Linked DNA regions of Homo sapiens: regions 2, 3, 4 and 5 are each reported to be linked to region 1. Evidence: microRNA targets listed by miRTarBase, many of them from high-throughput screens and not tested one by one. Region 1 holds a microRNA gene; each other region holds the end of a gene's coding sequence.

Region 1 (3,261 bases):
AGATAGCTTTTTTAAATGTAATTACTCTTGTAAGAGGAAAAAATACATGATACTAAAGGATTGTATTTTGTGACCACCTATAATGCAACAAATCATCTACTTAGTTGCTATGTTAATCTTTGCTGCTGTAACAAATTATCAGACTCAGTGGCTTCAAACAACACAAATTTATCATCCTGTGGTTCTGTAGGACAGAAGTATGATACTGGGCCCACTGGGCTGAAAAGGTACCAGCCGTACTGCATTCCTTTTTGGGGCCTTTAGGGGAGATTCTGTTTCATTGGCTTTTCAGTTTTCTTTGTGGCCCCCTGCATTCTTTGGCTTATGGTCCCTTCCTTCTTCAAAGCCTCCTTTTCACCTCCTTCAAAGTGGTCAAGTCTGTCTTATACAGCATCATTCTGACCTCTTTTGCCTCCTTCTTCCACTTTTAAGGACCCTTAGCATTATATTAGGTCCACTCAGATGATTCAAGGTCATCTCAAGGCCCTTAACTTAATCAAATTTCAACTTAATCACATTTGCAAAATCTTTTTGCATAACATATTCGCAGCTTCTTCAAATTAAAACGTTGACATCTTTAGGTGTGGCCATGATTCTGCCTGCCACAGTAGAACTTGTTTTCAAAGTAATCAGGTTTTGCCCTCAGCAAATTAACGCAGGAACGGAAAACCAAGCACCACATGTTCTCACTTACAACAGGGAGCTGAATAATGAGCACACGTCAACACATGGAGGGAACAACACACACTGGGGCCTGTTGGAGGGGTGCTGCTGGGAGGGAGAGCATAAGGAAGAGTAACTAATGGATGCTGGGCTTAATACCTAGGTGATGGGATGATCTGTGTAGCAAATCACCATGGCACTACCATCTCTACAGCAGCACAGCCTGTATCAAATAATGGTATGTTGGAGTAATTCAAACTGGAAAATAGGTAGCTAGGAGGACTGCACCTGAGCATATCAACCATGAGTTTCCATAAACCTGTAAAACAAAATAGCCAAAGAATTATTACATATATATATCTGTGGTTAAGAAATCATACCCCTCCTTTTTGAAAGGCCCAAATTCAAAATGAAAAGATACCACTACATTATATGACTGGCTTTCAAAAATTCCCCAGTGTTCTGCTTAACTTTTTAAATTTACTTTGTATCTTTTTTTTTTAACTCCAGAGTAGAAGAGTGATGCTTGATGTCCTCAAGTTACAGCCAGCATTTACTAATTCTTTGATTTGACTTTATAAAGTACTTATGCTTGAATCCAGAACCCAAGGATTTTTCAGTTATCACAAATTACTTTCACAGAAGGCTAATTTATTATTCTATGAGACAATCCATTAGATTGGTGCAAAAGTAACTATGGTTTTTGCCCAAAAACCATAGTTACTTTTGCACCAAGCTAAAATATTCTTCTCACTAAACTTTTTCTCTGCCAAAAGATCACATCTGGATAACTTTTTTTCCCCACATCTGGATAACTTAAGGCAAGCTTTTGTACCTCTTCTTCAGTACCTCAGAGAGAAAACAGCTTCTGTTTGATATTTGTGTAGTTTGTTTTGGCATAGTCATTGGAAAGGTCTAGGATTTTGGTTCCTGGACCACATATTAAAATAGCAATTCCCTACTGTTCAAATTGAAACTTGCCTGTAAAAATTCAATGTTAGTTTTTACCTGCTTGGTACCCTGAATTAAGATGAAAGGGTTTTAAAAAATCATCTTTCTTACAAAATCTGTGGGATCATTGTGACCCAATGAAAAATATACTTCCTGCAAAACTTTAACCATCTGTTTATTCAGATCGAGACTATTGGAAAAGGTACAAGGGACATTGGTCAACAATCAACAAAGGCATTTACAGGTAAATCCAGCTGAGTAGAGGAACTCATAGAATCCCTAAGTTTAGGTTTTCATGGGACAAAAGAAAGCATTCAGGAGAATGGCCCAAAATATTTACAGTATCAAGATCTGATATCATAATCCTTCATAGATCCCATTGTTTTGAAAGACGTTCAAGAGTGTGTGTTATAGCTTTTAGTTATTTTGATATGATGCTAACAATCACTTCTTTGCTAGCTCCTTTGGAACGAAGAAACATCTTCAGGTCCTGCTCATTGGGAACATTCTGTTAAAAACTCCAGGCTGTCGTTTCTTTGCCATGTCAGTATCCACTTCCATAGTAAGTTATTCAGTGGTTCCTCATTCTCCAAAGCTCATTGTCTGCATCGTTTCACTTCACACCAAAAAGCCTAAGTGAAACTGATTTGAAGAGCATTTCTGCTGAAAATCAGGTCATCCAACATTTTGAATTAAAGTGAAAGTTCTCATATACCAGAGATTTCTTGGTGCCATAATAGTCAGGTAGCCCAAACCTTTCGGAATGCTGTGTGCCGTAGATGGCTTTTACTTTGGCTTGGGATTTTTAAAACTGAGGTTGCATTGAATGTATAGGTCAAGTTGAGAAGAACTGATATCTTGACAATATTGAGATTTCCTGTCTGCGTATGTGGATAGCTTTCCTTTTTCTTAGATCTTTTGTATTTCTTTCAGCAAAGTTTTATAGTTTTCCTTATATAGATCTTTCACGTTTGATTTATACCTAAGTATTTAAATTTTTGGCATTAATGTAAATGGTATTGTGTTTTTAATTTCAAGTCCCAATTGTTCATTGCTAGCAATAAGAAGACAATTGACTTTGTATATTAACTTTTGTCCCACAAGCTTGCTATGATTGCTTATTAGTTCTAGAAGTGTATTACTTGTATAATTAAAAAAATTTTAAAAAAGAATCAAAGAGTATGGAGGAGAAACTTTCAGCACACCTGTGCACATCATAATCATTAAAATGTGATGAAATATGTTGACACCAGGTGTTGCTTTTGTGAATTTCCTGTAGTGGCTTAGAATCACTTTTGCTTATATTTTCAAATGTGAAGATTTGTATAATAAATTAAACTGAACAAACAAGAAAACATCTGGGGTGAGTTTTTGTAACAGGTGTTGTGTAAATAGGTCTTGTGGATATCCAAACAGGTGACACTACCTAAAATATACACACATGTTGGACTCAACATGCACAGAAACAAAGCATGTGGAATAGAAGAACCTAGACAATGGTAGTCCCAAGAATTGTGACCTAATGACAAGTGATATTACTGACAAGGGTGTTAATAACTCATAGACAGATCAGAGTTTCGATAAGGAAAGCAGGGACATCTCTCAATGTACAGCAATGAGGAAGACTTCATTTGTGCACATTTGTCT
Region 2 (3,261 bases), not on the chromosome of region 1:
TAAAGTTTTAAACTGAAATCTCTTTAAACAATAGGTCACTTTTTAAAAGGCCTTCTATATTTGACATAATATTATTAATGGGAACAATAAAAAACAATACATTTGTGAAAACTAAGAAGTAACTGAATATAAATATCTTTATTAATTTAAAATCAGATTCTACAGAAATATTTTATCACCAATAGAATACCTGTGTAAAAAACTAAAATTGAAATTTGAAAATAAAATGCACTAATTGTATGACAATTTTAAAATTCATTAATGTAAGGATTGAGCGCTAAAGATGGAGGAATAATTTGTTGGCATATAGAACAACTTTTAATACTAAAATACATTAAGTTAGTGACTTACATTCGTTTACTAAAAGGGCATGAGGTCTTGGCAAATGTTTTTTATTCTGAATGATTGAGGAAAACAGAAAAATTGTTAAAATTTTAAAGAAATATTTTATACCTTGTAAAACATTACATTAACTTATGCATAAACTAAATACTACTGAAAAAGATTTAACTCTTTATTTTACAGAATTGATTGGTAATTGATTTAATGACTAAAATAGGAAAACTGAAAATGATAAATATAAGTTTGGACCATCTATGAAAGAACACTTTAAGTTCAAACTTTCAGAAAGACCCTGTGGTTGTTTTAAAAGGCAGCGAGGGTCACTTTGGTTGTGTAAGTAATTGTAATAAATCAGAAAATATAATTTAATAATCTAGTCAATGAGCTCTGTAGCCAGTGAGACCTAAAATTAATTACAGCTTTGAAACTCATAATGCATGACCTTTACAAAGTTACTTGGTGTCTACAACACCAGTTTACTAATCTAGATTGGGGAAAATAATTTATGAAGTATAATGTATATAAAACCCTTAACATACAACCTGGCACACATTAGTCCTCAATACATATTAGATATTTTAATTATTTTTAACACAATTGCCATTTTATTATTTCTAATTCATACTGAGTGTGTAAAATAACTAATGAGGTAGGAGTCTCATGTCAGTGTAGTACATCTTTTTTGCAATGTTTGTTTGGCTCAATTTTTTTTAGGTCGTCCTATTATTTATAATTAAGTTTAGATTTGCATTTTATGGAAACTACTTCATTATTACATTCTTAAAAAAATAAAATCTGCTTCAATTAAATATAAGTATGTGTATGAGAAATTATGTTTGACATTCACAATTTGATGTATCCATTAAAAATGCATTTTTAAAGTCTGGGCTAAATATAAAGTATTATTACATCTATAATGATTATAAAATTTCAAATTAATTCTTCATTGTCGTGATATTTATCGGTTTCACTCTAAATTATATTGATTAACAAACCTATTATGATGTATGCATGTGCTTGACTAATTCTCCACAGGCAATAATGTAAATACTTTAAGAAATCCTCAAACATATATTATATTTTGGGTTGCTTTTCACCCTGAATTATTCATGTACAGACAGTTCTACTTTGATTTTATTCTGTATTAACTTTACCTTGTTGCATCACATTTAATATTTACAATTTTCTACTAAAGGAGATGAGCTAGTAGAGAAACAGGAGACTAGCAACACATACCTTCTGTCATCAGAAAGTCACACGCCCCTTAGTGGAGAGGTCAGGTTACCTCTTAACGACACAAAAGACATCTGTGATCCGGTGAAACCCCGTCTCTACTAAAAATACAAAAACTTAGCCGGGTGTGGTGGCGGGCGCCTGTAGCTGCTTGGGAGGCTGAGGCAGGAGAACGGTTGAACCCGGGAGGCGTAGCTTGCAGTGAGCTGAGATCGGGAGCCACTGCACTCCAGCCTGGGCGACAGAGCGAGACTCTGTCTCAGAAAAAAACAAAAAACAAAAAACAGATATCTCTGATCTTCACAGACTGCCCTGTGAAAGCTCAGAGTGAGGCAAGAGTGCAAAAAGCAGATTCCTCATCAATGTATCACTTCGGATTTGAACAGGAAGTTTTCACACTAGGGCCATTTTGAATCAGTTTATCTCATCATACACCTCAGAATATAAGAGACTGAGCTGCTAGGGTGTCATTTAGTTTGTCCATTTTCAAGTGACTTTTAGAAATTATTTTTATAGTAAACAAGATTTGGGGAGAACAAAGACTACTACCCATGCAGTTGTTTCCATCTCAATCACAAACACTAAAATCTTATACCTTTTTCAGAGTCTCTTACATGTTTAACTTCTACATTTACACAGGGTGGCTAAAACTTGGGATTACGTACTTCTTTATCATATACCCCTATAATATCACTGCTAATATGACGATAAATTTTTAAAATAATAATCTTACCAATAGGAATTTAATGTATTTGTCACTAATTATTCTGAGAAAATACATTTCCACTTCATTGTAATTGACATCAATTCTCAAAGTTAAATTCCCAACTTACTTTCTTGATAGTTCTTAAAATTCTCTCATTCAGTTTTTTAAAAATAAATTAATCAGATAACTCTCATTGAAATATATGTCTCTGGGAAGAATAAATAATTAAAAAATATTGTACTATATCACCACGCCAGAGATTGAAATATATAAAAACCACTCATTATATTGTTCATTGATTTATTTTCCAATCATAACGGTCTGCATTTTAATATTAATATTTGTTGTAAATGACTAATGCTTAAATCAAACTATATAGAGAGGGAAAAGTAATTTTTAAAACATCATCTAGTTAAAAATAGGGAGGGCAGAAAAAGTAGATTTTTAAAACACAAGCTAAATGGTACATGAGCACTCAGGGGCGGTGGCTTGTGTCAGTAATCCCAGCAACTTGGGAGGCCAAGATGTGTTGATTTCTTGAGCTCAGGAGTTCAAGACCAGCCTGGTCAACATGATGAAACCCCGTCTCTACAAAAAAATACGAAAATTAGCCAGCATGATGGTATTGGCCTGTAGCCAGCTACTCTGGTTGCTGAGGTGGGAGGATCGCTTGAGCCTTGGAGGTGAGGTCGAGGCTGCAGTGAGCCGAGATGAAATTTACTGAAATTGGGGAAATATACTTCATAATGATAAATTAATTTTCCAAACCATTAGTAATATATTTTTTATCATTGCATATACCTAATGATACAAGTTCAACATATAGTTGAATAAAGTGAACAAGTAAACAATCATAAATGGGATTTTTAAAGACTCTTCTCTTGATGCTTAATACAAGACAGGCCAGTGAGCCTATAGAAAGATTTAAACTAGACAAGTAACCATCACTCATATGAATGCATTCACACACATATACTCAC
Region 3 (3,261 bases), not on the chromosome of region 1:
GTGTCTTCTCCATAGCGGGGCTAAACCAATGCAGCAGAGCAATAATCAATAATCAGTATTAACAAATAAATAATAATTATCTAACAATAAATAATAAATCTTGGCATGCATAATCTCCCAATAGAAAAATTCATTTCACAGTCAGAATTCCATAAGCCTTCATTTCAAGTGCTGAAAAGAGAAGTTGACAAGTTTGAAAATGCCCTTCATTAAAAAATACAATATCCCAGGGTATACAGAGACTCAATCAAGTTGGAAAACTATTATCTGTCATAAAACAGAGTTCCACAGGAAGTCATTCTGGTTGACCAAATTGAATGATTAAATTCTCAACAAAATCCATTTAATTGGTGTGTGTGTTGTGTCAGGTTTTGTGGAGCTGCTTTAAGCCGAGGTGCTCCACGTGGCTGACACTAAATCAATGACTGATTTAGAACACACTGTTCAGAAAATGATTTAGCAACACATGATTTAACAGTAAAACCAATCCCCTCTTCAGTTGTGTTTTATGAATAATAGCCTAGTTGCGGGCCCCTTGGAGAGAGAATTGATCGAAGATCTATTATGCAAACTTGCCCTTTTGTCAGGACTGTACTTGCCCTCAGATTAAAGCTTATTATCTTCTAGTTGAGTGTATAACACGTTGGTATGATCACTTAGTGTGTCTGCAGAGAAGACTGAACGACTGTGTAATGCATTAGCTACAATCCCCTGCACATGTATTTAGAACTGTATGGACAACAGTACGTGAAATAGAAAGCACAGGTTTGCACTTGGTGTGGTTACATCTGAATTATTTGGCCTTTTGGAAAGACAATGGCAAACCTAAACCTCAAACATTTTAATTCCAGACACTAAAAAAATGTCTGCCCTGTGGCCAACGAAGTCCTATGTTCCTACTTTGGAAATGCATTTTGAGAGGAGTAATAGCCATCTTATGAGAATACTGAAAATTGGACTGCCCTGTCTTAGGTATGCTGAAATGATGAAAACCCTTTAGTGGTGTGACCTGAGTGAGTCACTTTATTCTCCTAGGTCTCAGTTTCCTCCTCTGCAGAAGATAGGTAAGCTGCACAGTATGTCTGCTAAGGTTCAGAAAGGTAAGATGCTTTTGGGAAATGCTTACCACTACAGATGTCTAAGGAAGCTACATCTCTAAAAGGGAAAAATACTGTAGATATTTGCTTCAAATGTAACCAGGTTTTAGCTTCATTTTTATAAATTTAAAGAAATGCAGGGGCCTGGGCAACGTATACAGCCTTTTTAGATCTAAACCATTTCTGTTTAGATCTATGAACCATTCTTCTGTAGATACTGGAAGTCAAGAGTATAAATATCTAGGCTTGTTAATTTACAGAAGGGCCTTGCTATGATGACGCAGAAGGACATCAAAAAAGGTGTGGGGGGGACCAGCAAGGTGAGGTGCAGCCACTTTAGCAAGAGAATTGGACTGCCATCATTGATAGATTTGTATCAGTGAATACTTTTTCCAGTGTTTTCCATCTATCTCCCTTTTGGCCCTTTATCTCCCTGCACTTTTACAAAGCTTCTCAGCGTCAGGACTTAGACTTACCAAAGATCTTCTTCCCCTCTCTGTCTCTGAGCAGGTGTGTTTCACAGCAAAGGCAGACTGGCACTACAAGTTGGAAGCAACAGCAAATAACTATTTCAGTGTTCATTTTTTTTCCCCGCAGTTTTGTGTGGGCAGATGTTTCTGGATATCCATGCAAAAAATGCATGTAGGGCCAATGCAAACAGCTGTACCAGCTGGCTATTTTGTTGTTGTTGTTAAAATGGAGACACTATATCTGGGTCCAAGTAGACACCTGCTTTTGCTCCATCATGCCAGGTATTTGGGTTTGGCCCTGTGGTTTTGGGTCCCTGGATCCTCCTGCCAAGAGCTGTAACTAATAAAGCAGACCCATTTGGTGACAAGTGACAAGCTATTCCAAAGTAGAATCACACCAATTCTGCAGTGCTGGAGCTGTCATTGGTTTTAAGGTGTTTTAAGCAAACCAAACTATACAAATGTTAAAGGCATACCAATGGCGGAATATGATAATTTCATTCTAGACAACGAAACTGCTTCACCTGGGTAAATTTAGCGGTGAATCAATTTTAGTCCATGAGTGATGGCCACTCTACCACATATCAGTTTCCAAGGCTCTGGCTTGCTTTTGCTGGTCAGAACTTTCACAAGTATCTCCTTCAGTGTTAGGGAGCTAGGTGAGACAGCTAAAACCTCAAACCACAGACCATGACTGGAGCTACTGCTCTACAGAAGTTCTGGAAGCCTTATTGTTTGAACAATGCTTAAAGGTGTTTCTGCCTTGGCAGTTGACCTTTCAATCAGTGGGTTTTGTCACAATGCCAGCAACATCTGCAGTTTGGATAAGGCAGGATCCTGCTTGTTAATAAGCTTTCTTCTACTTGATCTTAGTTTAAGAGACTATAGGTCTCCCAGGGTGTGTGTGTGTGTGTGTGTGTGTGTGTGTGTGTGTGTGTGTCTATGTGTGTGTGAATTCTCATAACAACTCCTTTGTTTTAAAGACTGAAAATATGCCAGGCCCATTTCTCCCCACTGTCCTTTCCTTTTTTTTTTTTTTTTTTTTTTGGCAATGCCTGTTTCCTATCTTTAAAAAAGGGAAGAACTTTGAATTTAATTGTTTCATTAACATAATCTCTTTGGTCTTGATAAGACCTAAGGTGAAAATATGCCAAGCAGACATTATCACACTGTTGTAATTTGGTCAACCACACGGGTACTATCGATATCTACCATTTCTACACACTCAATTTCCTCCCGGTTCTCAGGATTTTTCTTCTCTTTCCTTTTTTTCTTAGAGGGTGGCAGGAAAGTCAGTATCACAGGTAAAATGGCAAAGCAGTGAAAGAAGGTGACAAATGCTATTAAAAACAAGCACCTGAACAGTGTACAGGTCAGATTTGAAGGCACAGCTGCAAGAGGAATCAGACCAACAATATAGCAGAGGTAACTCTGTAAAATAGCTACCCCATGCACTTCCAGGGCATTTTTTACCCATTTAGTTCTTGTGAAATCCTTGCCCAGAACAAATGTGGATAACATTGGAGCACAATTGTCAATTGTGTAATTAATTCCATAAATTAAGCATAGCACAGAAATGCAGTCCAGTTCTACTTTCCATAATGTCATGAAACCTATCACTCCAAACTCCACGGACACAACTGTGAGAGTGATCCAGACGTTAATCAGTGAATCTGCCACCAGGAATGCCGAGA
Region 4 (3,261 bases), not on the chromosome of region 1:
TAGTGTATGATAAGCTTCATATTTTACCTCTTAATTATCTTCTACATTGAACTCTAGAGACAGAGCAAACTTATCCTAACACATTTCACATAGAATTCAAGTTATTTTTTGGGTGATAAAGCCGAGGCCTGTTATCATTCATGCACTATTATTGCAAGCTGTATTGACTAGTAGTTTAGTCATATAACTATTTTTTTCTTTTATTTTTATAAATTTTTTTTTTGTAGAGACAGGGTCTCACCATGTTGCTCAGGCTGGTCTCGAACTCCTGGCCTCAAGTGATCCTCCTGCCTTGGCCTTCCAAAGTGCTGGGATTATAGGCGTGAGCCACCATGCCTGGCCCACCAATATATCTATTCTTATTTCAATAGGAATATCTAGTTACTTTGTTTCTACAAATGAGTTTGTACCTCGTAGGTACAATGAGTTGTACCTTGGCTTCTTACTGGGGAGGACGTGGTAAAAAAAAATGAGACGTTTTAGACTCTTTGAGGGTTGGAAATTTTACCCAGAACATGAAAGAACATACTAGGGACAGGAATTCAAAAGATGATGATAGAGAATAATACTTTATTTGCCAAAACAAACTTTGGGCCTTATAATTAATTAATACTGTATAATCCTTATAATGGGGAAAGCAATAGTATCAAACTTCAAGCTTCTAAAGGGAATTTGGTATTACTCCAGTTAAAAAAAAAAAAATCCATGTTTTTTGTACCACAGCAGGGTCAGAGCAGCAGCCAAACTCTGAAATGGCTTTCAGAGTTCATGATGAATGCTAACCTACTTACCAAACAGGCACTTCAGCTACTCACTGTCAGCAGGCCACATCCTGTTCAGTGTGATGACTAAATGTAGAGTGAGGAAAAGGTGGAGAGCAGACAGTTCTATATTCATGACTACAGCCTTTTCCTTCTACATGCTTGACCTCCAAACCTCCCATGAAAAAAAAGTCCAAGGCTATCTTTTCTTTTTCATTCAGTTGACCAAAATCACAAGGGGGCATCCCTTAAGACAACAGAACCAACTTCCCCTTCATCTAGTAGGATTAATGTCCTTGCTTAAGCCACAAACAAGATGTTAACTGCCTTATATTTCATATGCAAGTGAAATATGAGTCATCCACTGATTCACGTAGCAACGCAAAACATCTTCTCTTCATCCTCTTGGTACTGTGTTGGTCGGTCATTTAATTCCAGAGGAATTGCTGTACCTTCCACAGCCAACTCTCCACCTCACTTGTGACACACAGCATGCACCCGGTGCTTCAAGTCTTTTGTCTTTCCTTGCTTCCAGACATCCTGAGACTTTAGAGAAAGAAAGTAATGGCCAACCTGATGGAAAATTCACTAAACTCCCTGTACAATTTTTTCTTTGTCTCAAACTCCTCATCTGCTCTTCATACTGTAAGTTCCAGAAATTGTCCATAGTAAGAATCTGCCCCATCCCAGCCAGGATAAAAATTTAGGTGATATTGCAATTATATTCTTCATGAAGTCACAGTAAAACGGTGGTTTTTAAGCTTTAGTTTACATCAGTATCGCCTGAAGGGCTTATGAAAGCAGGTTTCAGCCCTCGCCCCCAGAGTTTCTGATTCAGTAGGTCTGGGATGGGGCTGGGAACTTGCATTTCTAATACATTCCCAGGTGATGCAGATGCTTCTGTTCTCAGGACCACACTGAGAAACCTGCCTTAGACTGTTCAAGAATGCCATTGCTTGCTATCCTCCCTGGCCATCTTCACAGTAAGACAGTCTAGACTTTCATAAGAAGAAAGCCCTTATCCATGCCTTAGAAGGCACTTGTCCTTGACCTATATAAATGACAGAACATGGAAAACAGAGACTTAACTATAAAGAAGCAGAATTCATAGAAATCTTAGCACGTGTTTCTCGATCAGGAAACAAGTTAATGGAAAAAAAAGAAACTCACTCCTCTAACCAAGAGGAATTCTAGGTACAGACTAAGCTAGCTTCTTTTACACAGTAAGAAATATTTCGGGAGCAAATGTTAAACAGTACTTCATTTTTTAACTGTGCTAGGGTGTAAGAGAAACCAGCCCAATTACAGGCTTAGTTATACAACATCAAGAACTACAGCTCACACATTTAGTTAGAACACTTGGTACTACTCAGGATAGGAGTTCATCCTAGAGGAACAGGCACAAACCATGGTTAAGCTGCTTGGTTTAATTTTTTAGCACTTGAAAAAAAATGTACAGTAGTTTGAACACTCAGTCTTTGCAAACCTCCATTGAGGTCAAAGATATCATTCATACGTACAAAATTAGTTTATAAATTTTTTTGGCAATTTCATCTTAGTAACCCGTTTTGTCCTATTGCCATTGTCCCAACCATTGAAAAAGTTTACAATAATTTACATAGAAATATTTTCAAAGTGCTTAAGAATAGTGATTGTTCTCTGGGATATTTACAGATGGCCTATACAATGTATGTACAGGTGGTATACACTATAGCACAAGTTTCACTGCTGGAATATGGCTTTCTAGGGAAAGTGCATATTTGGCCAGAGGTGGCAATACTGTCTAGAAATTCAAGGGTTACAGATACTCGGTAACCACATCCAAAGCTGAAGTAGAATGTGGACAAGAATATTTACAAAAGTAATATAAAAACGGTCAAGTACACAAGCTTGATCCACGCAAAGGTATCTTGATGTTCTTCCAGCCGAGAGGAAGAAAAAGAGACTTCAGCTGCTGGCTCGGTTACCATTCCGACGGGGGTATTATTTGTTTAGACCTCAAAGGTCAACATTTGTCACAGAAGTCAAGCTAGATCATCATCTGTGCTTACAACTGATATCTGTGGAAAAGAAGAAGTATAGAATGAGCTTGGTGATCACTCACTGATGGCAACTCTAGTCTTTAAAATGGACCTTGCTTTTGAGTTGGTCATTCAAACACTCAGAGTGCTTAGAAGAAAAGTCAGTCAGATACAAAAGAATACTGAGTTGTATCATTCATGCATTTAACTTGAATTCAACTATACCTGCTTGGTAGTGAGATAAGATAGTGTGACTAATTCTGTCTTTTCTACTTAATGATCATAAGTCTTGGGGAAAAATGTGAAAAGCCATGTGTGTGTCAAGAATTGACCACTGTTCCATGTTTCACCGGAGTTTGAGAGGGGAGTGATCAATACTTGTTTTGTTCAGCCTGTTTCCTACGTGAAGGCCAAATACTCCACTTGGGTTTCATCTGAAGAACAAGTGAGTGACTATTGCTGGAAGAAAAGCTAGCTAT
Region 5 (3,220 bases), not on the chromosome of region 1:
CCAGAAGTTTGAGACCAGCCTAGGCAATAGAGCAAGACCCTGTCCCTACAATAAATAAATAAATAAATAAATAAATAAATAAATAAATAAATAAAAACACCTAGCCAGGCATAGTGGCATGCACTTGTAGTCCCAGCTACTTGGGAGGCTGAGGCAGGAGGATTGCTTGAGCCAAGGAGTTTGAGGATACAGTGAGCTATGATCACATCACTGTAATCCAGCATGGGCAATAGAGTGAGACCCTGTCTATACAAAAAGAAAAAGAAGGCATAATGCTACCTGCACCTTGATCACCCTTTATTTTGAGGGTTGGAATGATAGAAGTGATGTAAATGAGTTCTACAGAGGATATTTCTAAAACTAAGGAAAGTGAGTCCATATGTAAATCTTTGCTCTGTAATAAAAAAGAGAAAAAAACAAGAAGTAAAAGAGGGGGGACATAGTTTTCAAGAAAGCCTTTAGAGGTATGTTGTTATTAAAAACTTACTTTTGGCTTTATCAATGTGAAATGTTGTTAACCTGTGCTTTCTTTTGTGAAACTCTCAATATTTACTTGCATAATTCAAAGTCTCAAACTGCTTCTGAGCCTGTTACACATTATCCCCATTCAATAATATGGCATGAATTATGAAAGAGGACAGAGTAAATATTTTTGTCTTCTTGATATGACCTGTGTGACCAGTTTTGTTAGTTGAAATTAGTTTACAAAAACTAAATTCTCTTTGTTCTACATTACAATCTTAGTATTATATGAATCCAGAAATATCCTTTTCATGTGCCAATAATGCTACAAGAAAATGTGAAAATAAATTATTCTTTCTGCTAAAGATACTATATAGCTCTCAGGCATTTCTAACTTCTTTAAAAATAAAGTATGATTTCTAAACTGGAATGGAGAGAGAAGGGGCAGGTAAAATGGTTTACCACCCTATCAACACAGAGTAAAGCCCAACAATTAATGTGGCCTGCCTACTCAATGTACCACCTACGCAGAGCTTCCGCTTATGTATGAACAACCAAGGCTTGCCAGATATTAAGGAAAGAAACCCCAGCAAAACAATCCTAATCAAAGGAATATGAGAGGATTATCAGATTATCGGATTATATTAGGATAATGTTCTAAGTGTTTTACATTGATTAACCGAATACTGACAGGAACCCAATGAGGTAGATACATCTACATTATGCTAGAGATGACAAGGCAAATAAAAATTAAATTCCCTACGGTCAAACAGCAAGTAAGCAACACAGCCAGGCCCCAGAATCCACGCTTCTTAGCTTCTACAATACTCTACTGCTCAAACACGGGAAAGAGGAGATCAAAATGCATGGGCTGCAGAAACAGAATGAAGGGAACAGAGGGAAACTTTATCAAAAAAATTAAAACTATAATCATATTCTGAGAGATATAAGATACTGCATCTAGAGGATAAGAGTAAAATGATATGAAAAATGACCAAATAGAGAATAAGAAACTCTTGGGGGATAAATGAAATGAAAGCTAAACTTCATATTCAATAAAATGATTTTAGGCCGGGCATGGTGGCTCACGCCTGTAATCCCAGCACTTTGGGAGGAAGAGGCAGGTGGATCACTTGATGTCAGGAGTTTGAGACCAGCCTGGCCAACGTGGTGAAACCCTGTCTCTACTAAAAATACAAAAATTAGCTGGGTGTGGTGGCGCACGCCTGTAATCCCAGCTACTCAGGAGGCTTAGGCAGAATCACTTGAACCTGGGAAGTGGAGGTTGCAGTGAGCCAAGATTGTATCACTGCACTCCAGCCTGGGCGATGGAGTGAGACTGTGTCTCAAAAAAAAAAAAAAAAAAAAAAAAAGATTTTAAAAAACAAAAATATATCTCCCCCCAAAAGTAGAACTGAAATAAAACTTAAAAACAGTGCCTGCGAAATTCTAAAATTCTAAGGAGGAAATTCCTATCAGCCCAAATTAAAGGCAATTTCAGAAATGCAAGGAGATAAAAAGTTTACCTCTCATCTTCCCTTTCTTAGTAAGATACCAAAAAATGGTACACAGCAAAAGAAGGCATATGCTAAGATGGGAAAACATGGGATTCTGGAAATAATGGTGCCAACTTAAACGGTCTAGAAAAAAGGTGACAGTTGTGTGGCATAACTAGGTTGTAGGAGAAAAATTATAAAGTGGGTAAAATGACAAAGCATCTGGAAAGAACTAAGAATATAGAAGGAAAATTAGGCAAGCAGAAGAATGTAAGGTGAAGGTTAACTGGAGGAAAAACCAAAAGCTGTACCACAAAGAAAATCACGGTGGCTCACACCTGTAAAATATGGGCATTGAGCTTTACAGGGATTGATCGTAATATAACTATTTAGAAGGATGAGACAAAGGAAATGAGAAGGTGTCAGTTAAATCATTATTTATCATAAAATGAAGGCAATTTGAACTCAATGTCTAAATTATCAATAGATAGCAATGGAAAGTAACTTCTCAATCTTTTAGTCTAGACTATTTAACCAAAGGTATGTGTTCCTTTAATAATTTTTCTTTAGTTTATTGAAAGAAATGTTTACAACATGACACCAACAGAAGGGATCAAAGTGTGTCGTGAAATTGCGAGTCTTCATTCCTTTTTCTTGGTTCTTTGTATTCAAAGATGCTATTTAGTGTGTTCTGTTCTTCATCTTCTCTCTTGTTCGTTTTCCAGGTCTCTTCTACAGAAAAAGACATACCACATCTGGTCACATAGCAGCTTGCCTTCTGCCCCAGGGTGAGGACGAACAGAACTGAAGGGAGAGGGCAGGGTTGGGAGTGGGAGGGGAGGCTGAGCCTGCTCCTCACCCGGGCACCTGGGCTCACTTACATTTGACCCTTTCTTGCCAGGCCTCTTGAGGCCTCTGCCATGAGCTGTCTTGGCCCGGAAGCTAGATACATCATCATAGCTCTCCCGAGTGTTCCACTTTGAGCCTTTCTTCTTTCCACCAAAACCAAACTTCTGGTTTTTATACCGTCGTTTAGCACTGGGCCTGGAAAAGAATGGTCCTAGACATCACTACAGCACTGTAAAGCCTGATGAACCTGATGGCCCAGCAATGCTCTCAGTTTCCTTTCTATAAGCAAAGCCCCTTAGGCACGTCTGTAACCCAGAATCTCATCCTTGGCCCCACAATCCTATGCTACAGCCTCTCTAGACAAACTCATCTAGCTCACCTATTTACAGTTTTGACCACCAGGGCAGGAAAAT

The links. The annotated mature microRNA hsa-miR-548bb-5p reads AAAAGUAACUAUGGUUUUUGCC and lies in region 1 at 1,350-1,371, shown strand. An mRNA with a match to its seed (bases 2 to 7 or 8) in the 3' UTR can be bound and repressed. Matches are read on the target gene's strand: a 7mer-m8 pairs with bases 2 to 8, a 7mer-A1 pairs with bases 2 to 7 and ends in A, and an 8mer does both.
Region 2: the mRNA of KLRC3 is a reported target of hsa-miR-548bb-5p. Seed matches in the 3' UTR shown: 7mer-m8 at 2,668-2,674.
Region 3: the mRNA of PTCHD1 is a reported target of hsa-miR-548bb-5p. The part of its 3' UTR that is shown has no 7-base or 8-base seed match.
Region 4: miRTarBase lists VLDLR as a target of hsa-miR-548bb-5p. Seed matches in the 3' UTR shown: 7mer-m8 at 2,620-2,626 and 7mer-m8 at 1,320-1,326.
Region 5: the mRNA of EBNA1BP2 is a reported target of hsa-miR-548bb-5p. Seed matches in the 3' UTR shown: 7mer-m8 at 2,456-2,462.

The regions. Positions count from the first base shown.
Region 1 is chr3:60,615,947-60,619,207 of GRCh38, reverse strand. It overlaps MIR548BB (microRNA 548bb), which reads left to right and starts at 1,338; the gene lies at 1,338-1,403. All of the region lies in intron 4 of FHIT (fragile histidine triad diadenosine triphosphatase), which reads left to right. It also overlaps the pseudogene MTERF1P1.
Region 2 is chr12:10,409,748-10,413,008 of GRCh38, forward strand. KLRC3 (killer cell lectin like receptor C3) reads right to left here. Exons shown (of 7, transcript NM_002261.3): 7 at 2,568-2,869. The coding sequence ends at 2,825. It overlaps KLRC4-KLRK1 (KLRC4-KLRK1 readthrough), which reads right to left and starts at 399. Exons shown (of 13, transcript NM_001199805.1): 1 at 352-399. KLRC4 (killer cell lectin like receptor C4) reads right to left here and starts at 10. Exons shown (of 4, transcript NM_013431.2): 1 at 1-10.
Region 3 is chrX:23,393,656-23,396,916 of GRCh38, reverse strand. PTCHD1 (patched domain containing 1) reads right to left here. Exons shown (of 3, transcript NM_173495.3): 3 at 1-3,261. The coding sequence ends at 2,732. Among named protein-coding and RNA genes, the nearest start is that of PTCHD1, 60 kb to the right of the region's middle.
Region 4 is chr9:2,653,393-2,656,653 of GRCh38, reverse strand. It overlaps VLDLR (very low density lipoprotein receptor), which reads right to left. Exons shown (of 19, transcript NM_003383.5): 19 at 1-2,821. The coding sequence ends at 2,786. All of the region lies in intron 2 of LOC105375957 (a long non-coding RNA gene), which reads left to right. Among named protein-coding and RNA genes, the nearest start is that of VLDLR-AS1, 33 kb to the right of the region's middle.
Region 5 is chr1:43,161,804-43,165,023 of GRCh38, forward strand. EBNA1BP2 (EBNA1 binding protein 2) reads right to left here. Exons shown (of 9, transcript NM_006824.3): 8 at 2,840-3,002; 9 at 2,381-2,690. The coding sequence ends at 2,640. Among named protein-coding and RNA genes, the nearest start is that of MIR6733, 8.3 kb to the right of the region's middle.